Linked DNA regions of Homo sapiens. The protein of the gene in region 4 purifies or fractionates together with the protein of the main gene of each other region. This does not show direct contact. Each region holds a gene or a part of one and is shown on either strand. Other genes may lie near its edges.

Region 1 (3,500 bases), on a different chromosome or scaffold from region 4:
TTCTCTGCAGAATCCTGCAGAAGTACTACCAGCTTTAAAAGTCTTAACTGATAGGGGCTACCTACAGTATGCCATTACTTACCTTCCAAGAGAAAGCTGGAATAACTGTCTTTCCCCTTAGAGTTGTATTTGCTCTTCTTTCAAAAATAGTTCAATTAAAAATTAATATATATATATATTTTTGAGATGGAGTCTTGCTCTGTCACCCAGGCTGGAGAGCAGTGGCGCAATCTCGCCTCACTGCAAGCTCCGCCTCCTGGGTTCACGCCATTCTCCTGCCTCAGCCTCCCGAGTAGTTGGGATCACAGGCGCCCGCCACCATGCCCGGCTAATTTTTTGTGTTTTTAGTGAGATGGGGTTTCACCATGTTAGCCAGGATGACCTTGATCTCCTGACCTCATGATCTGCCCACCTCAGCCTCCCAGAGTGCTGGGATTACAGGCATGAGCCACCACGCCTGGCCAAAATTAATATTTTTAAACACTCTCTGGGTTCCATTTCTTGTTCAGATACTGATACTTGTTTTCCAACATTCATCTTATTAACTACTATACTAACAAAGCAACTGAGATTTTAATCATAAAGGGGGACCGGGCGTGATGGCTCACACCTGTAATCCCAGCACTTTGGGAGACGGAGGCAGGTGGTTTACTTGAGGTCAGGAGTTTGAGACCAGCCTGGCCAACATGGCGAAACCCTGTCTCTACTAAAAATACAAAAAAATTGGCTGGGCGTGGTGGCGTGTGCCTGTAATCCCAGCTACTTGGGAGACTGAGGCAGGAGAATCGCTTGAATGTGGGAGGCGGAGGTTGCAGTGAGCCAAGATTGCACCACTGCACTCCAGCCTGGGTGACAGAGTGAAACTCTGTCTAAAAAAAAATAAATAAATAAAAAATAAAAATAATAATAATAATAAAGGGGACAAGAAATTTATAAAAGCCTAGTAATTTAAACAATTTCTAAAAGTAGTTCCTCCTTCACAAACACATTCCCACTAGCTCCTGGAAGATTCACTTAGCACCTTCACCTCACATTCCCCTACTGGGTTATCTGGCATCAAGCCAGGGACCAGGAAACTACCCCCACTAAAGCAGTTTGACTATAGAGCTAGTCTGGCTCAGGTTTCTGGGCCCTCACTTGCACCAACTCCTTCCAAGGTCCCGAGAAAGGCCCTAAGCAGAGTGTCCCTATGGTCATACACTTTTGTAAAATTTACCCCCAAAATATTCTAATTGCAATAAATTAAGACTACTGCCTTTTCCCACTGCAACTCTGCCTCTGTTCCTCTTCCCCTTCATGTCAGGTAGCTTGGGAGGTGCTGCTGGCATTTTTGAGATCCACGTAAGGGTACATTAAGTTGGAGAAAGACACTTAGTTTGGGTTTAACAGGACACATTTATGCTGTTTACAGTTACTTCTACTATGCAAACCTAGGTGATTACCAGCAATCTCAATGCGGGTATTCCTTCTAGAAATACTATCACCCACTGTGCTGGTTCACCAGGGCTTTTATGAAATAAAGGTGAAGGGCCAGGGATCCTGTGGCAATGTGAATAGGTCCAATGGGGTCTGACTCAGGGAAGTGTGTGGGCAGTGGAAAGGAAACATGGTTTGAAATGGAGGGAGCCAGTTGCTTGTTTGTGGGGAATTTACCATCAGACGTGCTAAAATATAAGCGAATAGATCAGTTACCAGAAAAATAATCAATATAGCAGTACAATTCTGTGTGCCTAAGATGTGTGTTTTTTTTTTTTTTCTTTTTTGAATGGAATTGTGCGAAACAGGATTTACCTGAACACCTGTTTTTCTGGGACACCAACCTGTAGCAGTACTAGAAACAGCAAATACGTCTATGTGAAACCATAAGTTTTATGTACCCTATCAACAATAAAAATTTATCTACTGTGCTAGAGGAATCACTGAGTTCTTTCTATATCCTGTCATATGAAAATGTGATTAAAAAGTACACAGCCAAAGGAAGAAATATTACACAGGTGTGTTAGATAATTAACAAACGTTATTTTTCTCAATTTAGCCATTTGCATTATTCATCAGCTTTTTCAAATTTGTTACGTTCTCATTCTAAATATTCACTTTTTTTTTTTTTTTTTGAGACAGAGTCTCGCTCTGTCACCCAGGCTGGAGTGCAGTGGCGTGATCACGGCTCACTGCAACCTCCACCTCTCGGGTTCAAGTGATTCTCCTGCCTCAGCCTCCTGAGAAGCTGGGAATACAGGCACATGCCACCACACTTGGCTCATTTTTTGTATTTTTAGTAGAGACGGGGGGTTTCACTGTGTTAGCCAGGATGGTCTTCATCTCTTGACCTTGTGATCCACCTGCCTCTCCATCTCTTGACCTCGTGATCCACCCACCTCGGCCTCCCAAAGTGCTATGATTACAGGCGTGAGCCACCGCTCCCAGCCTCACTTTCTAAATTAGTTTTTATTTGTAACTTTGCATTCTTTCTCTTAAAGAGTTCTCCCCTTCCCCCAAATTGTATACCTTCAAGCTCCATAAAACCTGGCATCTACCTCTGCCTCAGAAGAAATCTGATTAATTCATTCAAATATTTATTGAGCTCTATTCTGTTTCAGGCAAGTCTAAATGCTTAGGGATACAGGAGTTCCTAAGAGAGAAAAATTCCCCCCTATATAGTGGACAAATACAAAGAAGAGAGTACCTAATATATATTAAATGGTGATTTAAGTGCCTTGGAGTGAGTAAAGTGAGGGTGGTAGAGAGGAAGTTGGCAGCTGGAGGGAGACAGGGAGGAGGCTTCATCAAGAGGACAAGGTCCAAGACAAGGCCTCAAAAATGCACTGGTACACATTACAACAGCTACCGTGTCCTGTATGACCACCACTGCAAGGAGATGCATGTCAAGCCCTTCGCTTATGTCATCTCATTTAATCCTCACAATAACCATGTGCAGCTGGCATCAAGGAACTCAGGCTCAGAAAGGTTAGTGATTTGTTAGCAGTCACTCAGCTCCACAAGCGGCCTCAACCCCATCGTGATTGCATGGTGTGCACAGAGCACACAAAGATACAGAAGTTTAATTCAGAAAGGGAGACGACTGAGAAAGTAACCAGTACTACCTGCCCACTGCAGTCACAGAGAGAGCAGAAAGAAAGAGGCAGCACCGCTGGCTAGCCTGACCTGGAGCAGCTTTCCTCACAGGGGAACAGGAGACCAGGTGGACAAAGGACATAGTGTGTGCACAGGCAGAGGACTACATAGAAACTGCAGGAGCAGCTGGGAAAGGATGAGTATAGTTGGGCTGAGACACCCGAGGGGAGGTGGGGAGGTGGCCTGGGGTTGTGCTGCGCGAGCTCTAGTGGGCCAACTGGTTGGAATCTCATACCAAAGTAGGTTTTGCAGCTGGGATAGGACATGACCACATTTTCATTTTGGGAAGCAATCAGGAGGATGGGCGGGGAAGGGGAAAGATGGGATTAAGCAAGATTCATCACTGCATCCTACAACATTATAGGGCC
Region 2 (3,500 bases), on a different chromosome or scaffold from region 4:
AAAAACATCCCATGAGCCAAACAGCATGTCTGTGGGCAGTTCAGACCTCCAAGCTGTGCGTCCACACCCTCGCCTGCCTTGTCTTCTGGACACTTTTGTGTGACATAAGAATGGGTTTGAGGGAAAAATTATTATTTTTCTCTGGGTGATGAATATATTTGGTTATTGTCTAAAGCACTTATTAGGCACCTAGTTGCACAGAGTATGGTGCAGTGTAGATATAATCCTTAATTTCCAGTTGCTTACAGTATTAAGAGTTTAGGACAGAGAGAGAATGGAAAGCAATACTAACCTCTCATTCAGTTTTCTAGCAGGACCCTGTACCATTTTATCACCTAAGGGAAGCTTGGGCATATAAGAGCATGAGCACAATTTGGATTTTGAGGAAAGAGAGGCTAGGTGCCTTGCACACAATAAGCTCTCAGTAATGACTCTATTCATTGCTTGGGTTGAAGAGTGATTAATTGGGGGTGGGGGAGCTGCAGGACAGATTCAGGAACCACAGTGTCTCTAAGCTGAGAGAGCTGTTAGAGGTTGCAAGGCTGTGCATCAGAATTATCTCAATAACTTGTAAAATTCAGATTTACTAGATCTAGGATAGGGTCTTGCAATTTAAATTCAAAGCAAAGCAAAAACCAAGCCAAGGTAATTCAGAGGCAGCCCCATGAGTTTAGTGTACAGGAGAGGAAAGCTAGGTCCAGGGAGTGAAGGCTAGTCTGTTCCAGCTCAGACCAGCCTTGAGTTCCCTAGCCTTGGGACCCCAGAGGGTTTCCTCAGCCACACCCTGCCCAGTGGGGCCATGAGTGAGTGACCATGCTGTGTAAGGAAAGCAGGGATGGTGGCTTTTCTCTCTTCTAGCTGAGGAAAGGCAGCGAACACCAGGCGATTGTGCAGCACTTGGAGAAGTCCTTTGCCATTGCCTCCTTGGTAGAGACGGGCCACCTGGCAGCTTTCTCCCTGACCTCTCACCTCAACGACACCTTCCGCTTTGACTCAGAGAAATTGCAGGTGGGACAGGGTGTCTCCCTAACCCTCAAGACCACAGAACCAGGAGTGACTGGCCTTCTTTTGGCTGTGGAGGGGCCGGCTGCCAAGAGGACCATGAGGCCGACCCAGAAGGACTCTGAGACAGTTGATGAGGATGAAGAAGTGGATCCAGCTCTGACTGTAGGGACCATAAAGAAGCACACCCTCTCCATCGGGGACATGGTCACAGGGACTGTCAAGTCCATTAAGCCTACCCATGTGGTTGTGACTCTGGAAGATGGCATTATTGGCTGTATCCATGCCTCCCACATTCTAGATGATGTTCCAGAGGGCACCTCTCCTACTACCAAGCTGAAGGTTGGGAAGACGGTCACTGCCCGAGTGATTGGCGGGCGAGACATGAAGACATTCAAGTATGGAGGCTCTGGGGGTGGGCTGGCTTCGAGGGAGATTGTTGTTGTTGTGGGAGGACTGGGAAAGTAGGTGGGCTCCAAAAAGTTGCATGTAAGTCAGATTCTCTTTTAGTTAACAAAAGGCATTCACCAAAGAATTATTTTGCAAGATTCTTTTTTTTTTCTTTTTTTTGAGACGGAGTCTCACTCTGTTGCCCAGGCTGAAGTGCAGTGGTGTGATCTCGCCTCACTGCAAGCTCTGCCTCCTGGGTTCACACCCTTCTCCTGCCTCAGCCTCCCAAGTAGCTGGGACTACAGGCACCCACCACCACGCCCGGCTAACTTTTTGTGTTTTTAATAGAGATGGGGTTTCACTGTGTTAGCCAGGATGGTCTCAATCTCCTGACCTTGTGATTTGCTCACCTCCACCTCCCAAAGTGCTGGGATTACAGTGCATTATTCTTTTTAAAAATATGGAATATATGGTGTGGTTGTTAAGAACATGGGTTTGGAGTCAGACCCGGGTTTGAATTCTAGATTAACTGTGACCATGTGGCAGTAGCTACTTAAGTCCAAATTTTATTTTCTTAATTTGTAACGTGAGAGTCATGGTAGCGACTACTTTGTAGGGCCATGGTGAAGACTGAAAGAGAGAACGTGTAGTCTGTTCTTTGCCTAGTGGGTTGCTGGCCTCAGTTACTGCGCTGTATACATCTGCAGTTGTCATTCTCCACCTCCCACTTTAATTATCCTCATTTACTTTAAATCTAGTGCCACATGTTACTGTAGCAGAAATTCTTGCTATAACAAGAACAGCAAAAAAAGAATTCAAAGTCTGGCCAATAATTTGCATATTAATTTCAGTAGCTAACTGTGGGGTCTTCAGTAAGTCAATTATCCTCTAAATAAAGACCTCAGTTTCCTTATTTTTAGAATGAAAGAATTGGAGTATATAGACTGTAAGGAAAATTGTTTTCAGGATCTGATATGACAATCCTAAAAGATCAGGCCAGGCACGGTGGCTCACGCCTGTAATTCCAGCACTTTTGGGAGGCTGAGGTGGGTGGATCACCTGAGATCAGGAGTTCAAGACTAGCCTGGCCAACATGGTGAAACCCCGTCTACTGAAAAAACAAAAATTAGCCGGGCACAGTGCCTGTAGTCCCAGCTACTCGGGAAGCTGAGGCAGGAGAATCACTTGAACTCAGGAGGCAGAGGTTGCAGTGAGCTGAGATTGTGCCATTGCACTCTAGCCTGGGCAAGAGAGTGAGACTCCGTTTCAAAAAAAAAAAAAAAATCAGGTGAGGCTGGGTGTAGTGGCTGAACCCTGTAATCCCAGCACTTTGGGACGATGAGGGAGGTGGAAAACCTGAGCCCAGGAGTTCAAGACCTGCCTGGGCAACATGGTGAGACCCCATCTCTACAAAAAAAAAAATAAATAAATAAAAATAAAAATTAGCTGGGCATGGTGGCATACACCTATAGTCCCAGCTACTTGGGAGGCTGAGCTGGGAGGATTGCTTGAGCCCAGGAGATTGAGGCTACAGTGAGCCATGATTGCGCCACTGCATTCCAGCTTGGGTGACAGAGTGAGACCTTGTCCCAGAAAAAAAAAAAATTCAGATGAGCCTGCTCCTTACTAATAACTGCAAAGGTTGGGAATGGAAACCTTCAGCCTGACACATCTGTCTTCAGTGGTGGTGTGACAGTGGAACAGGGTGCTTTTGTGAGCTTGGTTTGGTGGAGAGTAGGGAGAAATCCTGACCTACAGATTACTGTGTTACAGAGATGAAGAGAAATGATTCAGCTTATTTGTTTCTCCAGGTATCTCCCAATAAGTCACCCCAGATTCGTTCGAACCATCCCGGAGCTGAGTGTTCGGCCAAGGTGAGGGGGACATTAGCAGCACTGTCTTACGGAAAGAGCACTGGGCTTTGGAATTAGGAATCCCGAATTCGAATCTTGATTTTACCAGTGTTAGGATTGATTTTTGCCTTTCTCTGTCCAAGTTTTCTTGTTTCTCTAGTGGGGATATTTGGTTCTCCTAGGGCTGGAGGGATCATATGAAAATTAATGCAAAAGCTGTGTACAGGTTTTAAGTATCAATTTAAAGCCTGGTTT
Region 3 (3,500 bases), on a different chromosome or scaffold from region 4:
TAATTTTTCAACCACTCACGAAAATGTGCATTTATCCTTAAATAACTAATACTCACTTTCCACTGAGAATATCTTGTTTTAACTGAAGAACAAATAAATACCTAAGAAAAATGAAAGGCACAAATTTAACCCAACAGCACAATCGACTGTGAAAAAAAATCTTACACTTCTAACTTGAGAAGTATTATTTCATTAAAAATTACTTGTATTAATGTATAAAAGATGTGCATAGTTTGGGGATACATGAAATAATTGAATACATTCATATAATTTGTAAGGATCAAGTCAGTATACGTGGGGTATCCATCACCTTAAATATTTTTCTCTTCTTTATGCTAGAAATATTTGAATTATTTTCTTCTAGCTATTCTGAAATGTAAAATACGTAATTGTAAACTATAATCACCCTACTGATCTAACACTAGATCTTAGAAGTATTCTTAATTAAAGGCCTGGTGCAGTGGCTCACACCTATAATCCTAGCACTTTGGGAGGGCGAGGCGGGTGGATCACTTGAGGCCAGGAGTTCAAGACCAGCCTGGCCAACATGGCGAAACCCCGTCTCTATTAAAATACGCAAATTGGCTGGGGGTGTGAGCACGTGCCTGTAATCCCAGCTATTTGGGAGGCTGAGGCATGAGAACTGCTTGAACCTGGGGGAACAGAGGTTGCGGTGAACTGAGAACATGCCATTGCACTCCAGCCTAGATGACAGAGCGAGACATCTACTTGTTATGTGAAGGGATACAGACATGGATATAACTACAGATGATAGCTACTATCTCATTGTCAAGGTGTTCTAAAGGAAACCCTTCTAAAGGAACTCAAAAGCTCAACTTTTTCATTTAATAAATAGTATGTGTATATGGAGCAATGAATTTATAATAGAGACCATGAATAAATACAAAGGAGGCAGGATAACATTAAAATAAGTATATACAACATAAGGTTTATTCAAAACTATTCAAACCAATCAGAATCTAATGTTTTTCATTAATCAATGGCATTTCAATGAGTAAAGAAAGTTGGGCGCCAATTTGAATAAACTCCCTGTGGCCAAAGATAGATTATTTTCAACATCAATAAATATAATATTGCAATGTATTGAAACATGTGAATCCTGTTAACATTCCTGAGTTGAGAGTGATACTTAAAAAAAAGAACTCACTAGTCACCTTTGGAGGATGCTAAGAAACCAACTCTTTATTTTGAAAATGCTAAAGGAAAAGAATCATACACTTAAAAAACACGTCCCAGAATAAAATTCTATTATTTGAGGTCTTGTTACCAGGGGACAGGAATCCATTTTATTAGCTGGCTATAAATTGGAAACAATATAAAGACAGTCTTTCAAAACTATCAAAATAACCCTGGCACAATTCTAGATGGTGTTCTTACCGGGTTAGCTCCTCACGAAGGTTATTTGGTTCTGAGGAATAAAACTTAACTCGAAGATGCAGACAATAGGGTGAACCAACTGTCATTTAAAAAAAAAAAAGGTTTTAATAAAATAAACTACTTAAATAATACTTTTCAGCCAGAAAACTGGTCAAAAATCTACTGAAGTGAGACAAAAGATGAGGTTTTTATGGCATTATTGCAGGTTAGATCATAGGCTTCAATTAGATTGTTTTTTAATGTACCAAGCCATCATATTACTATTAACTCTCATCCCAAGAATAGACAGCTATAGATTAATTCTAACAGTTCAGAGCCAAATGCATCAAATAAAAGTCTTGACTGTGCAACCTAACAGCCCTGAAAACCTGCTACACTGAAGAATGCCTATGTTATTAACTGCTCATGGTGAATCTTCCCACACAAATACAATTCAGCAAGTTCACTAACTTCTATAATCTCAGTGGTCTCATTATTTTGAGACAAGAGTTGAGGTGCCCTAATAAGTCTGATAAAAAGTCAAGTTGGATAATGAATAAACAATGGTATTCTCTCTCTGAATGACACTAACATTTTATGTGAATTGTTTCATTTTTCTTAATTTTAAAATATCACAAAGTCTCAAAATACTTTCAATATTAGGGCAGATGCCAAACAGGAAAATTCCAACACAACTAATTAAAAAATAACCATTAAGCATTTCGGGGAAAGTCAATCCCATTTGCAAGCTGCAAGGTTTTCTCCTGGAAAGTTAAGCCCCAATGCAGTTTAATCTAGATTAGTATCAAGCCTACATGACTTGGGGAGTAGCTCAGTGTATCAGAATAAAATAATTTCTAGAAAATGGAAATGCTAAAAAACTCATCTGAAACATGATTTCTTACATCCTATTAGAAATCAGAATTTCTAATATATTCTATTTCCTTTCCCCCCCACAAATAATTTTGTCTGCACTTACTTTTTACTTGCTTTTTGATGCTTTTTGTACCATCCAACCAATGCTGAAAAACAAAAACAAAAATTTAGTTAAGCAGATGACAGAACTTTAAAATTTGAATGAATTACTAAAAGTTACTTTTCATTGTGCCTACACTGATAACCGCAAGGAAATACTTCACAAGAGAAAAACCCAAGTGAATGAGAAAAGAGGTGAGAAGGAAGAGTATCTAGCCAATATCCACCATAGCAAGCTTATGACACACGTGAACAAAAACGACCTAAAACCTGACAGATGACTTTTTTTTTTTTTAAATACTTTAAGTTCTGGGATACATGTGCAGAACGTGCAGGTTTGTTACGTAAGTATACACATGCCATGGTGGTTTGCTGCACCCATCAACACATCATCTACATTAGATATTTCTCCTAATGGTATCCCTCCCCTAGTCCCTCACCCTCCCAACAGGCGCCAGTATGTGATGTTCCCCTCCCTGTGTCCATGTGTTACCATTGTTCAACTCCCACTTATGAGGAAGAACATGCAGTGTTTGGTTTTCTGTTCCTGTGTTAGTTTGCTAAGAATGATGGTTTCCAGCTTCATCTATGTCCCTGCAAAGGACATGAACTCATCCTATTTTATGGCTGCATAGTATTCCATGGTGTATATGTGCTACATTTTCCTTATCCAGTCTATCATTGATGGGCATTTGGGTTGGTTCCAAGTCTTTGCTATTGTGAACAGTGCTGCAATAAACATATGTGTGCATGTGTCTTTATAGTAGAATGACTTATAATCCTTTGGGTATATACGCAGTAATGGGATTGCTGGGTCAAATGATATTTCTGGTTCTAGATCTTTGAGGAAATCACCACACTGTCTTCCACAATGGTTGAACCAATTTACACCCCCACCAAAAAAAGCATTCCTATTTCTCCACATCCTCTCCAGCACCTGTTGTTTCCTGACTTTTTAATAATGGCCATTCTAACTGGTGTGAGATGGTATCTCATTGTGGTTTTGATTTGCATTTCTCTAATAACCAGTGATGATGCGCTTTTTTTCATGTGTTTGCTGGCCATATAAATGTCTGCTTTTGAGAAGTGTCTGTTCATATCCTTCACCCACTTTTTGATGGGGTTGTTTTTTTCTGGAAAATTTGTTT
Region 4 (3,500 bases):
CACATACACAAAACTATGCAAAATTGATTTAGGTGGTCATTGACTTGGCATTATATACCACTATATTACATGATGAGGAAGTTATGCATACTCTTTATTTCCCTTTCAGCCTTTCTAATTACAGACTTGGAGGAGGAAATCTCCCATGGGGTTAGTCTTTAAAGTCTCTCTGACATCTACAGCCCTCCCTTTTGAGGAAAGGGAAAGCAGCAAATGCATCTGGCTAGAATTTAGTAACATTGTTTTATTTCCATTATGTTTATTTTCACCATTATAATCATGATGGTGATTTATAATGAATGGCTTTCCATTTAAGGGAGTGATATATAAAGTTTCTTCTCAAAATAAATGTATTTGCATTTTAAAACATCAATTAAGAAAGAGTAGCCAGGCATGGTGTCAGGCGCCTGTAATCCCAGCTATTTGGGAGGCTGAGGTGGGAGGATCCCTTGAGCCCAGGAGTTTGAAGCTGCAGTGAGCTGCACCACTGCATTCTAGCCTGGGCGACAGAGCGAGACTCCATCTAAAAAAAAAGAAAAGAAAGAAAGAAAAAGGAGGGAAATTACGTTAAGTAAATTGTCAGGTGGATGACACCTTGGCCAACACTGGGAAGGTGGGCTGGAATAAAGTGCTCCGGGAAGAGCTATGCTGGATAACTTACCATGCTCTGAGTCTGGAGAAGGGCCAGTGCCGAGGACAGGATGGAGGGCCTGGAGGTCTTGCTAGCTGAGGAAGTAGATACAGCCTGGGGATCCCAGCCCTACCAGGGGGCTGCTCAGGGCAGGCCTGAGCACATGGCATGGATGTTAAAGCTCATGGTGTCCCATCTGTGGTCCAGGCAGGGAGAGGATGGCCACGCACCTGGGAGGTCTACACTCCAAGCTCCTGTCCTAAAGGACAGTTGGGGCCACCTGTTTATTCCTCCTTGCCCCAGGGAGAAGTCTGATTCCTTAACTCAGAATCTAACAGCTGGGTACTGAATTTAATTCTTGAGTGTTCTATAAATATAATAAATAAAGCCTTAATAAATGTGGTCTGAATGAGGAGGGCCATGGGCAGCATTTCTCACTCATTCTAGATCCCTCTGTAAAGTTCGAGCTCCAGCACCCTAGGAGCTACCCCGTTCCATGGCCCCAATACGGTGAAGGCCACGCTAACTGTCATCAGTCATTGACCTGTGGCCAGAGAGCCAAGCTAAGCCGGGAGAAAGATGCAGAAGCCTGTCATAAATTATTTATGTATCTATGAGATGAAGTCTTGCCAGGCAGGAAGAATGTGAAAAGAGGTCAGAATAGAAAAGTAAACATGTGTGTTTAATTCAGTCCAATCAAACAATAAGGCCAGATGCACGGCAGATGTAGGGGATTAGGTTTGTATAACTTGGATTCAGAGTTCATAGGTCAAGGAGCCAGCCCAGTTAGAGGGCACGGACTATCAAAAAGGGCACAAGCGCATCCATCAGCAACACAGGGGAACCATATCTTATGTTTTGGCAAAACAACAAAAACACCGACCTCAGCTCAGTCCACTGAGATGGAAAAACTTCAACCTGCTTGGCATAACCCAAGTTACCTGCAATGGCGCCATTGTTTCCTCCTTGGTAAGTGGCTTTTAAACCCAGGAAGATTAGAATTTAGAAAATAGAGATGATTAAATAAACAAACACTCATAGTATATATCCAATGGTGTTAAATGTAAGTTGGGTCAAGCTCCGTGAGTTGCATAAAGTCCTATATTTGTGATATTTAAAAACATTTGGCCATTGAGTTCCTCATGAATGTGAGCAGGTAATTGACTTAGGTTCAATTTTGAAGTAGAAAATTTAAGAGAATTTGACAATATCTGTAAACATTAGAATATTTAAGAGAACTTGATATTCGCTTTAATAACTCAGAAACAGAAAGTCAAACACCACATTCTCACTTATAAGTAGGAGCCAAACAACGTGCACACATGGACATACAGAATGGAGTAACAGACATCAGAGATTCCAAAAGGTGGGAAGATGGGAGGGGAGTGAGGAATGAAAATTACTTATTGGGTACAATGTACAACACTCCAGTGCTGGGTACACTATAATCCCAGACTTCACCACTACGTAATATATCCGTGTAACAAAACTGCACTTCTACCCTCATATCTATAAAAATTTTAAAAATAACTTAATATTCACTTCACTTATGCTAGTTTTTTAGTTCTAAAAGCATTTTCTAAAATTCTTGGGAACATTTTGTTTCATGCTCTATAAAATATGGAATTCATCATATTTATAAATGTGCTTAGAATATCAAAAGCAGTGTTATCCAATATAAATATGATGCAAGTTACGCATGTAATTTTAAATATTCCAGGACAACCCTCCCCCTACTTTTTTATTGAGACAGGGTCTCCTTCATCGCCCAGACTGGAGTGAAGTGGCACAATAATGGCTCATTCATTGCAGCCTCAAACTCCCGGGCTCAAACCATCCTCCTACCTCAGCCTTCCGAGTAGCTGGGACAACAGGCTTGTACCACCACTTCAGGCTAATTTTGTATTTTTTGGAGATACGGGGTTTTGCCATGTTTCCCCAGCTGGTCTTGAACTCCTAGGTTCAAGCGATCTTCCTGCCTTGGCCTCCCAAAGTGCTGGGATTACAGGTGTGAACTACCACACCAGACCAGAAACCCCATTTTTAAAAAGTAAAAAGGAATATGTAAACTTAATTGTGATAATAGAATTCATTTAGCCCATCATATCAAAAATATTATAAGTTCGACATATAAATCACATAAAATTTGTTGAAATATTTTACATTCTTTCTTGAAACTCATCTTCAAAACCTGTTGCATATTTTACACTTTACACATCTCAATTTGGACTATCATCACATTTTAAATGCGTGATTGTAGGGGCTACCCTATGGAATAGCACAGAACCAAGGGAGTTTGATTAGCTACATTTGTAAGGGTATTTATTATTTAAGGATGCTAGGTCTGTTCAACTTCATTTGCTCAAATATTAAAGGCCCATCGAAAGTCATTAATCAAAATTACAGGGCTTATAAAATAAAATATGATTAGTATGTTGAACTCACAAGTTAAGAAAAAACAAATTATTAAAAAATTGTTAATTAAAGAATTACTATTTTTTTCAAAAGTAGCCACAAACAGCCTTTTCATACACAAAGGCAGCCCTCGAGGACCTCGCCAGCCAGAGCACAGCTGGCATTAGAGTCACGGAGCTCAGCACTGCCCTGGCGGGAAAGGCCTGGGGCTTTGTTACTGCGTCATAGTGTCAGATCTGGACAAAAGCTTTCTTATAGATTGTCTGACAGAGCACCCCCCTTCCACTGATGAGAAAACATGGCTGAGAAGAAAAGAAGCACAGTCAATGGTGAATTAGAGACGGGACCAGGGCAGAACCTGGGGTCTCATGATGCCACCCCAGCCTCCCCTGTCAAGGGCTCCTAATTCATTCTCTCTGTTCCTTCATCCTTAGTTGGCTGATCAGGAAACTGA
Region 5 (3,500 bases), on a different chromosome or scaffold from region 4:
TTATCCAAGAAAAACAGGCTAATAAAATATTTAATAGCTATTAGGTAGCACATATTTGAGCAAAGGTATTAATCAGAAGAGTTTTAAATTAACCTAAAAAAGCCCACAGACATTAATAAGCAAAACGTACTATTTTGATATTCAACGCTAACGTGTAAGTACACATTATCAATTAATATCAGAAACTGGATACCTATTAGACTAGTTAATTATAACTGACAATGGGCTTGAGTGTCATGGCAGAAATAAATCGATCAGAAGCAATGACATTCTGATGTCAGTTTTCTGGCAGAATATACCAAGGTGACAAAAGGAAAAAGGGGTGGGTGGAAAGTGTCAAAATCCCTATGGAGAGTAAACAGAAAAATATCTCCCTATTTATAAAATATCAACCAAAATGGCACCTGGTGATATTCTGACATTGTATTCTATGTTTGCATTTCTAAATTTCAGTTTATCATTCAACATGATCTAAACTGCTTTACTTTTCACTAAGAGGAAGAACTAGGAAAGAAATCAGCCTACAAATGGCTTACACTGTACACAACAGAACACAGATCAAAAAAACATCCACAGGCCGGGCGTGGCGGCTCACGCCTGTAATACCAGCACTTTGGGAGGCTGAAGTGGGCAGATCACCTGAGATCAGGAGTTTGAGACTAGCCTGGCCAACATGGCGAAACCCCGTCTCTACTAAAAATACAAAAATTAGCCGGGCGTGTTGGCGGGTGCCTGTAATCCCACCTACTCAGGAGGCAGAGGCAGGAGAATCACTCAAACCCCAGAGGCAGAGGTTACAGTGAGCCGAGATCGCGCCATTGCACTCCAACCAGGGCAACAAGAGCGAAACTCCATCTCAAAAAAATATATATATATATCAACAATAATCCCTACTACTGGAGTTAACAGATTACTGCAGGTTACAGGTAGGGCTCTGCTGGGAAGAACAAAGCAATCAGAATCACAGACTGATGAAGCTGTCCCTACTATAAAAGTCCCAAGCAAAAATGCTCCAATACTGTATCCTCTGGATCTCCCTGAGCCGTTAAGGGGGAGAAAAAGTCAGGTAAGCAGCTGTAAAGTTATGTCTAAATCATTTGTGCACATGATAAAATCATATAGGTGAGCGATGACCATTTTAAAAATGTTCTAGTCTGAAGCAAAAGGAACTACACAGCTCATGATTATCTAGGGTTTAAGTGCTTTTCTTTTTTCTTTTTTTTTTTTTTGAGACAGAGTCTCACTCTGTCTCCAGGATGGAGTACAGTGGCGTGATCTCAGCTCACTGCAACCCGCGCCTCCTGGGTTCCAGCAATTCTCCTGCCTCAGCCTTCCGAGTAGCTGGGACTACAGGAGTGTGCCACCATGACTAGCTAATTTTTGTATTTTTAGTAGAGACGGGGTTTCACCACGTTGGTTAGGATGGTCTCCATCTCTTGAGCTTGTGATCCGCCCACCTCGGCCTCCCAAAGTGCTGGGATTACAGGCGTGAGCTACTGCTCCTGGCCTTTTTTTTTTTTTTGAGATGGAGTTTCACTCTTGTCCCCCAGGCTGGAATGCAATGGTGTGATCTTGACTCATTGCAACCTCTGTCCCCCGGGTTCAAGCAATTCTCCTGCCTCAGCCTCCTGAGTAGCTGGGATTACAGGTGCCTGCCACCACACCCGGCTAATTTTTGTATTTTTAGCAGAGACAGGGTTTCACCATGTTGGCCAGGCTGGTCTCAAACTCCTGACCTCAGGTGATCCGCCTGCCTTGGCCTCCCAAAGTGCTGAGAATATAGGTGTGAGCCATTGTACCCAGCCTCAAGTGCTTTTCCTTGAGGAAGTCACACATGATTTTACTCCACAACTCTTATTTCATAGGAGCAGTGTACACCTTAGTATCCTATCCCTTCTAACCCAACCACTAACTTCAAATCAAGCCTCCAAGACAGAAATTCTTTACTCTCCTCATGGTGGTAAAAAGGGCATAAAGTAAGGCCAGCGGCGGCGGCTAAAGCCTGTATGTACCTCAGCACTTTGCAAGGCTGAGGCGAGAGGATCACCTGAGGTCAGGAGTTTGAGACCAGCCTGACTAACATGGTGAAATCTGATCTCTACTAAAATACAAAAATTAGCCAGACGTGGCAGGTGCCTGTAATCTCAGTTACTTGGGAAGCTGAAGCAGGAGAATCGCTTGAACTCTAGAGGCTGAGGCTGCAGTGAGCCAAGATTGCTCCACCGCACTCCAGCCTGGGCGACAGAGAGAGACTCCCTCTCAAAAAAAAAAAAAGACTTTACTGGCAGGGCATGGTGGCTCACGCCTGTAATCCCAGCACTATGGGAGCCCGAGATGGGTGGATCACCTGAGGTCAGGAGTTTGAGACCAGCCTGGCCAACATGGTGAAACCCTGTCTCTACTAAAATACAAAAATTAGTCAGATGTGGTGGCAGGTGCCTGTAATCTGTTACTTGGGAGGCTGAGCAGGCAACTCGCTTGAACCCGGGAGGCTGAGGCTGCAATGAGCCAAGATCACCCCACTGCACTCCAGCCTGGGTGACAAGAGCAAGAGTCCACCTAAAAAAAGAGAAAAAAGATTTTATTTGCGATTGGAAGAGAGTGTTTCTTTGTCTGCATGGTACCAGAGGAATTAGGAAGTTGGCAGGAACAAGTGATGGTTTATGATTTCCTGAATTGTTAAAGGCTAGAAGGCTGGCCCTGTAGAAATTCAAGAAGTGTGCGTGTCAACCACCCTAAAACCATTTACTGTTCTTAGCTGTTTAGCTGAACTCCACTTAAGTTTTGGTGAAACTCTGAAATCCTAAAGGACAATGTTCTCTGACAATGCTGAAAATGGATATAAAACAAAAATGTCATAGCCAAGGACATATTGACAGTTTTTGATAAGCCACTCACAACTTCTAGGCACTCCCAATCTTCTGGCATTTAAATTGGGAAGGAGAGGTTATTTAGGAGAGTTTGTTCCCTGCCAATATTAAAGATAGTTTCACCATTAAGCTGTCAGCTTTTACACTGTTGACAAGTGAAATACACAGAGTAAAGCAAACCATAAGCTCTAAGAGATGTTTAACTACTTTTGCTATTGGAGCAATTACCATGTTTGGATTTGGTGGAGGCCATTATAATCTTTCCATAGTCCATCAAGAGCTTGAAATTTAGCCACTTTTTGCCCCCTTTTTTTTGTTTTGAGACAGAGTCTTGCTCTGTCACCCAGACTGGAGTGCAGTGGTGTGATCTCGGCTCACTGCAACCTCTGCCTCCCGGGTTCAAGCAATTCTCCTGACTCAGCCTCCTAAGTAGCTGGGATTACAGGCCTGCGCCAACATGCCTGGCTAATTTTTTTGTATTTTTTAGTAGAGATGGGGTTTCACCATGTTGGCCAGGCTGGTCTCGAACTCCTGACCTTGCGATATGCCTGTAATCCCAGCATTTTTGGAGGCCGAAGTGGGCGGATTACTTGAGGTCAGGAGTTCAAGACTAGTCTGGCTGACATGATG
Region 6 (3,500 bases), on a different chromosome or scaffold from region 4:
AGGGGTGGAGCCTCTGGGGGCCAAGCTCAGGGGTTGGGGGGTAGGTGGGTGATACCCTAGGCTTTTGGGTATAGATGAAGCCCAGATGCTCCCTAAAGTAAGGCAAAACCATTCTCCCTGGAAAGAAAGCAGGTGGGGGCCTGCAGGCCAGCAATCACTGTCTATATCTTGAAGGGAAATGGAAGAAGAATCAAAATAGTAATCCCCTTTACTTTCTGGCTTTGAACTTTTCTTTTCTTTTCTTCTTTTCCCCTGAGATGGAGTCTTGCTCTGTCGCCCAGGCTGGAGTGCAGTGGCACAATCTCGGCTCACTGCAAGCTCCGCCTCCCAGGTTCACGCCATTCTTCTGCCTCAGCCTCCCGAGTAGCTGGGACTACAGGTGCCCGCCACCACGCCTGGCTAATTTTTTTTTTTTTTTTGTATTTCTAGTAGAGATGGGGTTTCACTATATTGGCCAGATAGTCTCAATCTCCTGACCTCGTGATCCACCCGCCTCGGCCTCCCAAAGTGCTGGGATTACAGGTGTGAGTCACCGCGCCCGGCCACTGCCTTTGAACTTTTAGTCACTTGTACGTCTTTTGATGTGAGCTCTTCTGATGCTTAGATCCTCCCTGTGAGCTGGCTATAGTGACTATTGCCCCCATTTACCAGCTGTGGAAATAGAGGCCCAGAGGAAACAGGAGTCCTGCCCAGTCCCTCAGGTGGACTGGATAAGAACCTGGCCTCACCAGTCCGGTGCTTGTCCCACCCTCGGCAATTCTAGGAGATGATTGGTAGGTGATGTTCCTGGGCATATCCAGTTTTTTGCCCTGAGGGATTTGTTGGGTGGGTTTTTAGGTCTTTCTGGCCTCTCTACTTTTCTCCTGAAGGTTGGAGAAAAAGTTACCTTGCTTAAGGGACTGAGCGCAGCCAGACCATTCTCCAGTTTGTGTCGGTGCTTCACGTACTGTGCATAAAGGCTGAACTGGTCCCCCTGTGCCAGTAAAGAACAGATAAGGAGTCCCCGGTGAGGCCGCTGCAGACAAGCCTCTCTCTTCCCCCTCTCTATCCTCTCTGTAGCCCAAATGAGGGATGGGTCACCAGGGAGCACTCAGCCTACCAGGGAGGGAAGGGCTCCCTGTGGAGAGAGCATAGTCCAGGCAGCTCTTGAGAGCAGGGCGCAGAGGCTGAGTAGAGGCAGAAGTGCCCACAGAACAGGGCTGGGCCCCAAGGTCATGGACCACACATGGGAGGAGAGGGCCGTGGGTACTGAGAAAGAGGGACAGATGGATGAGGCTGGAACAGAGAAGGGAGAGCACTTGGAAGAAGTTGAGGGGATCACTCACGTGGCGAAGGAAGCAGGCCCCAATGCGTAGGGGGTGGGTGGCGCAGCCCTGAAGCTCCCGCAGAAAGTGTGTCCGGTGGAAGCTGCGAAGCCTTTCCCGGGCACTCAGGGCAGCAGCCCAGGTGCCCCGAAGTTCAGGCGTCAGCTCAGGCCCAGGGGGTGGCACTGGCTCACTCAAGGTGGCCACGTAATCTTGTTCACAGGCAATCAGCTCAGACACCAGCCGCTGCTGGGCACTGCAGGCACAATAGGAGTGGCAGAGGAGGTGTGGGAGGGAGCCAGTACCCCCAACAATGTCATCTTCTTTTCCTACTGGGCAGTTGGCTCCGCCTCTTAGCACCAGTTGGGCTGGGATCTCACCTGATGCTTCGCTTGCGCTCCATCCGGGGGGTGCCTACTCCCCAGGGTCCGTCTGGCCCCCTAGCCCGGCCCAGCAGCACGTGTTCCCGTGGTGAGCACGTCCTGTCTACCACCTCAGTGCTGGTGACCTCCAGGCCTCGGATCAGCACAGCTCTTGGGGGCCTGCCCTCTGCTTCTGGAGCCAGCTCAGGGCCCTCTTCCTCATAGTCCTCTCCACATGGGGCCAGGGAGCAATGGGATGGGGCTGGCCGTGGCCCAGGGCTGCTGGGGAGCAGCAAGGAGCTGAGGCTGGGCGAGGGGCTGCGGGGCCCCCACTGGGCCCCTCCACTGCTGGCACCGTCTGCCCGCCGTCGTCGGTAGCCCCGTGGGCTCGCCTCCTCTCCCACGTGTTGCTGGATCCTCCTCTCTAGCTCTTGGCAGCGGGCCTGGCAGCGGCCCCATTCTCGCAGGGCTGCTGGGCTGCCCAGGTCCAGGGCCAGGGCCCGCATCTCCTGGAAGGTGCCGGCACTGGGCTCTGGGGCCCGCCGCAGGGCCAGTGCAGCCAGCACAGCCTCCCGACCCGGCCCAGCTCCTGCCAGCCGAGCAAAGCCCTCATCCACCCATTCATGTGCCTACGAAGTCAAAGGGGTTGGGGATGGGAGAGAAAGGGTAAGGGCCTGTGTTGCTCACGAAGGATGCCCAGTGACAGCCCTTGTCCTCTTGCCTGTGGCCTCCCAATGCCCGTCACTCTCCTGTTTTCTCACTGTTCCACCATCACTGCCTAACCATGTCACTCGGAGTTGGTATGGAGATGGAAGAGCCTATATAAAAGAATAACCGGTACTCATACGACATTTATGAGTGGCAGGCTCTGTGCTAAGGGCTTTTATGTATTGCCTCGTGTAATCCCCACAGCAGCCCTGTGAGGTAGATCTATGGAGGCACAGTCAGGTTTAGTATCTTGCCCCATGCCATTCAGCAAGGAGGTGGCAGAGCTAAGAGCAAAAACCTAGGAGATGGGCCCCTCAGCCTCCACTTTTAACAACTTGATTAGCCTCTCCAGGCAGAAAGGAAGTGAATAAATGGAAATGGGGGGGCACAGAAGGAAAAGGCTCTGCATGCACCTGCTGGAAGAAGCGCTGTAGCCGCAGGGCCCGATGGAGGCCACTCTCAACCTGCTCCAGCCGCTGTTCAAAGATATCCAGCACCTTCTGGGAGGTGGCATTCTCCTCCAGAGCCAGGGCCTCCCGTGCCTGGGCCAGGCGCTCCTGGAGAAGGGAGGCTGCGCTCAGACCTGGTCCTCACTCCTAGGTAGTCTCCCCCTGCCTCCTCTCACCTGCCCTCCAGCCCCTTCTCACCTGGACCTCAGCGCTGAAAGCACGGAATCGCAGCTCTGTCTCCTGCAGGGCAGACAAGGTGTCCCCAGGCATAGCAAAGCTTGCCAGCTGCTCCTCCCCTGGGCCCGAGAGCCACTGCAACACCTGAGGCAGATGGGGTGGGAGGGCAGGGGGTCATGGAGTGGAAAGGCAAGGAAGGGCTGAGATCCAGCATCAGCCCCACCACCCCAATCTATAGAACTTTGAGTGAACTATTGCATCTCATCTGCAATGTGGGAATGACAACAGTGAATGGTAATAGTTTCCACAAGGGTCAGATGAGAAACCGAGTAAGAAATCTTTGGTAAGGCAGATGAGAGGGAAGCTGGGCTGATGGGAAGCACTGAGGGAGTGGGTCAAAGTTCCAGGGCTATGTCCGAGGGTGAAGTACATCAAACTGGGGTGAACCAAAAGCAGGATGAGGGTCATAGGGATGACTGACGGCCTTCACCAAGCCTTGG
Region 7 (3,500 bases), on a different chromosome or scaffold from region 4:
AAAAAAATGTATATATATGTATTTTAAATGGCTTTAGAGAAGTACCAAGACAGCAAGGATTTCAGGGGCTGCAATCATGGAGATAAGGGAAGTACAACAAAGTGAGCCTGACATCACGTCCCTCTTTCCCCTTAAAGCATGTCTATTTACATGCAGCAGCTGAAAAGCTGAGAGACTGAGCAGAGCTTCCCATTAGGTTGATGCAAAAATAACTGTGGTTTTTGCCATTGAACATAGTGGCAGAAACCACAATTACTTTTGCACCAACCTCATATAATCTCATGGGCCTGGAGAGAAAAAAAAAAGTGTGTTTAAGCAGAAACTAAAACAGACTACTGACTTCTCAACTGCAACTATGGAAACCATAAGACCATGAAATGGTATCTCAGAAGTGTGGACAAAATAAATGTCACACAAAATTCTAAATCTAGTTAAGAAGCCTTCAAGAGAAAGACTTTTTCAGACAAAGAAAGGTTAGGAGAATCAGTTATCAGTGAATCCGTTATTCAAGAAATACTAAAAGGAATACTTTAGGCTAGAGGAAAATGATCTCAGACGGAAACATGGAATTGCAGGGAAAAAATAAAATGCCTCAGAAAGGGTAAATACAATGGCTTGTGTCTGTAATCCCAGCTACTTCGGAGGCTAAGGCAAGAGGATTGCTTGAGCCAGGCGTTCAAGGCTGCAGAGAGCTATGATCACACTCTGCACTCCAGCCTAGGTGACAAAGCAAGACCCTGTCTCAAAAAAAAAGCAGGGGGAAAAGAGAATTTAAATGAATATTGACTGTATAAAAGAGTAATAACAACTTATAGTATTTAAAATATAGCAACAATAGTGTAAAAGGCAGAGTGGCAAATAGCCTTAAAGTGTTCTAAGGTCCTAAGCACTGTAGAGGAAATGGTAAAAATACTACTATTTTCTATTAGACTTTGATAAGTTAAGGATGTATGTTGTTATGCCTGTGGAAATCACTAAAAGAAAGGGAAAACAGCATACAATTAACAAGTTAACAGAGGAAGAAAGTGGAATAATTAAAAACAAAAAAATCCAAAAGGAGACAAGAATGGAGATAAAAAAGGAAAGTCAAGAAACAAATAGTAGGACAACAGGTTCACACACAAAGCAGGTCCAGGCTGCTATCCTAGGAGCTCCCATAGCCTTACAGTGTCCGGGGCCACCACAGCTCTTGGAGACTGGGCAGGGTGTGACGAGATGGTGCCAGCCAGAGCAGTAGGGCAGGCCAACACCTAACACCTTGTCAGCTGGCCAGGAAATACTGAAGCAGCCTGCACTCACCAGCAGTCACTGGCATCTGGAAGCCACCTTTCTGAGGACAACTGGAGCCAAACAATGGTTCTGCCACCCCCATTTTAGAATGAGGAAGTTGCTAAGGGGAGAAGGTACTAGCTCTAGCTAAAAGAAAAGAAATAAAAACAACAAAAATGTTGACAGTGGTTATCTCTAGGACTGACTTTTTTTCAAGAGATGGGGGTCTTGGCTGGGCATGGTGGCTCACACCTGTAATTCCAACACTTTGGGAGGCCGAGGCGGGTGGATCACCTGAGGTCAGGAGTTCAAGAACAGTCTGGCCAACCAACATGGTGAAACCCCATCTCTACTAAAAAAACAAAAATTAGCCAGATGTGGTGGCGGGTGCCTGTAATCCCAGCTACTCAGGAGGCTGAGGCAGGAGAATCACTTGAACCTGGGAGGCAGAGGTTGCAGTGAGCCGAGATGGTGCCACTGCACTCCAGCCTGGGCGAGAACAGCAAGACCCCATCTCAAAAAAAAAAAAAAAAAAAAAAAAAAGAGATGGGGGTCTCCCTATGTTGCTCAGGCTGGACTTGATCTCCTGGGCTTAAGCAATCCTCCTGTCTCAGCCTCCTGAATAGCTGGGACTACAGGCATGAGCCACCATGTCCAGCTCTGAGTGATTTTTACTTGCTTCTCTGATTTTCTGTAGTTTCCGGAATTTCTAATCAGTATTCTTCCTACACAGAAACAACCAACGAAGTACTCAAAAACATAAAGAGGAAACAGGCAGAGGGGCCATAAGGCAGCAGAAGACTGTGGCAGGGTTCTGAGTCAGGCAGCACCAGCACCTCAGCTCTGCTGGTGGCCAGTCTCTGTGGCTTAGGGCCAGGCTGTCCCCTAGCCAAAGGGAAGCAGAGACCAAGCCATGCTTTTTTGGGGCTTTCTGCCCCCAGAGTCTATGGGAAGGAGGGCAGCCCAGAAAGCCCAATGGCTTCTAAGACACTATCCTTTGCACCAAATGCCCTAGGCCACCCAAAGTCCACCCTATACCGGCAGCCAGTGTCTGGGTGGAGCTTTGCTGTCTCTCCACAGGAGCAGACACATCAGCCACCTCAGTGCCTCCACTGGCCCTCCCTCTGACTCAGGGACCCCAGTGTCCCCAAAACAAGTCTAAGCTTCTTCACGTGGTCCTGGCCCCACAGCCTGCTCACCCCCTCAGCTACACACTTCCCCGTCCATCACGCTTAAAGAGCCAGCTCCAGGAGGTGGCCCTGTGGGCCCCTCCCAGTGTCCCTACTCACCCTGAGGCACAGTAACCGCCCTTCTCCTGGGCCCCCTTTGCCCCACTTGCCTCTCTACCCTCTCCACAGCAGGCCCCACTCCATGCACGTGGCCCTGTGTCGGCTGCATGTCTGTCTTTCACAGCCTGCCCTAAATGCACCAGGCAGCTCCAGGAGGGGCTCAGCATACATTGCCTCAAGCTGGATAAAGGAATTCAGAAGGCACTCAAGAAAGAGCTTTATGGGTAGCCTGGGGCTCTCTGAGCCTTTCAATGACTTGAGAAGACATTTGGAAGCAAAGAAGTTGTGCCCAGCAGAGAGGGCAGGAATGTGGCTGGGCCGGGGCAGCCAACCCCTAAGCAACTTCTTTGTGGCAAAGCAACAGGGAATGCCAAGTTTGCATTCCATAGAGTTTCCTTCTAAAATGGGTAGCTGACCTTTTCTATTTACTTTACTCTGCTTCAGGCCAGCTGCAGGAGCCCGGGACATGGGCTGGCCAGGGAGGTTCAGGGGAAATCACCCCTAGGGTGCTTTTTCACATGTGCCAATGAGAGGAAGCAGGTGGAGAAAGTTGATGTTCTCTGTCAAGTATAGAACCAGAGTAGAGTTCTAGAATGGCGAAATGAAAGGAAGCTTTGAGATTATGAATCTGATCCAACCCCATCACTGGCAAACTGGCCTCAAAGCCTACACTGCTCATGGGGGTTTCATGGCCCCTGGTCCACTTCACTCACTCATGCTACCAGGCTTATCCTTTGGGGCGCTAGCCTCCCTTCTCATCCCTTATATCTTGAGGCTACTCCACATTCACCTGCTGCCCTGGGCCCCTGGAGGGAGGCAGAGAGGATAAGGACAGGACAGTCCCACATGGCCTGTTCCCTGAGAACAAGGTCCTCCACCTGGCCACCCTGGTCCCTCCTGGCCATACAGGCCCCATCAAGGGCCAGAGAGAGAACTGCTGTG

What was found.
Region 1: the proteins of CD6 (region 4) and FARP2 purify together in Homo sapiens (affinity purification with mass spectrometry; one large-scale study listed by BioGRID and IntAct). This does not show direct contact.
Region 2: the proteins of CD6 (region 4) and PDCD11 purify together in Homo sapiens (affinity purification with mass spectrometry; one large-scale study listed by BioGRID and IntAct). This does not show direct contact.
Region 3: the proteins of CD6 (region 4) and EPB41L5 purify together in Homo sapiens (affinity purification with mass spectrometry; one large-scale study listed by BioGRID and IntAct). This does not show direct contact.
Region 5: the proteins of CD6 (region 4) and PIP5K1A purify together in Homo sapiens (affinity purification with mass spectrometry; one large-scale study listed by BioGRID and IntAct). This does not show direct contact.
Region 6: the proteins of CD6 (region 4) and ARHGEF40 purify together in Homo sapiens (affinity purification with mass spectrometry; one large-scale study listed by BioGRID and IntAct). This does not show direct contact.
Region 7: the proteins of CD6 (region 4) and CCDC12 purify together in Homo sapiens (affinity purification with mass spectrometry; one large-scale study listed by BioGRID and IntAct). This does not show direct contact.

What each region holds. Positions count from the first base shown.
Region 1 is NC_000002.12:241,359,285-241,362,784, reverse strand, and holds part of FARP2 (FERM, ARHGEF and pleckstrin domain-containing protein 2), read right to left. Parts: intron 1,908-3,500; exon of another isoform or gene 1,785-1,907; intron 1-1,784. UniProt on the Homo sapiens protein: Functions as a guanine nucleotide exchange factor that activates RAC1. May have relatively low activity. Plays a role in the response to class 3 semaphorins and remodeling of the actin cytoskeleton.
Region 2 is NC_000010.11:103,424,126-103,427,625, forward strand, and holds part of PDCD11 (protein RRP5 homolog), read left to right. Parts: intron 1-858; coding exon 859-1,400; intron 1,401-3,203; coding exon 3,204-3,266; intron 3,267-3,500. UniProt on the Homo sapiens protein: Essential for the generation of mature 18S rRNA, specifically necessary for cleavages at sites A0, 1 and 2 of the 47S precursor. Directly interacts with U3 snoRNA. Involved in the biogenesis of rRNA.
Region 3 is NC_000002.12:120,072,077-120,075,576, reverse strand, and holds part of EPB41L5 (band 4.1-like protein 5), read right to left. Parts: intron 2,400-3,500; coding exon 2,357-2,399; intron 1,478-2,356; coding exon 1,399-1,477; intron 102-1,398; coding exon 57-101; intron 1-56. UniProt on the Homo sapiens protein: Plays a role in the formation and organization of tight junctions during the establishment of polarity in epithelial cells.
Region 4 is NC_000011.10:60,974,680-60,978,179, reverse strand, and holds part of CD6 (T-cell differentiation antigen CD6 isoform 1 precursor), read right to left. Parts: intron 1-3,500.
Region 5 is NC_000001.11:151,201,552-151,205,051, reverse strand, and holds part of PIP5K1A (phosphatidylinositol 4-phosphate 5-kinase type-1 alpha), read right to left. Parts: intron 1,247-3,500; exon of another isoform or gene 1-1,246. UniProt on the Homo sapiens protein: Catalyzes the phosphorylation of phosphatidylinositol 4-phosphate (PtdIns(4)P/PI4P) to form phosphatidylinositol 4,5-bisphosphate (PtdIns(4,5)P2/PIP2), a lipid second messenger that regulates several cellular processes such as signal transduction, vesicle trafficking, actin cytoskeleton dynamics, cell adhesion, and cell motility.
Region 6 is NC_000014.9:21,080,304-21,083,803, reverse strand, and holds part of ARHGEF40 (rho guanine nucleotide exchange factor 40), read right to left. Parts: intron 3,145-3,500; coding exon 3,022-3,144; intron 2,932-3,021; coding exon 2,788-2,931; intron 2,485-2,787; coding exon of another isoform or gene 2,350-2,484; exon of another isoform or gene 2,307-2,349; intron 2,296-2,306; coding exon 1,685-2,295; intron 1,561-1,684; coding exon 1,326-1,560; intron 974-1,325; coding exon 887-973; intron 1-886. UniProt on the Homo sapiens protein: May act as a guanine nucleotide exchange factor (GEF).
Region 7 is NC_000003.12:46,928,246-46,931,745, forward strand, and holds part of CCDC12 (coiled-coil domain-containing protein 12), read right to left. Parts: intron 1-3,500.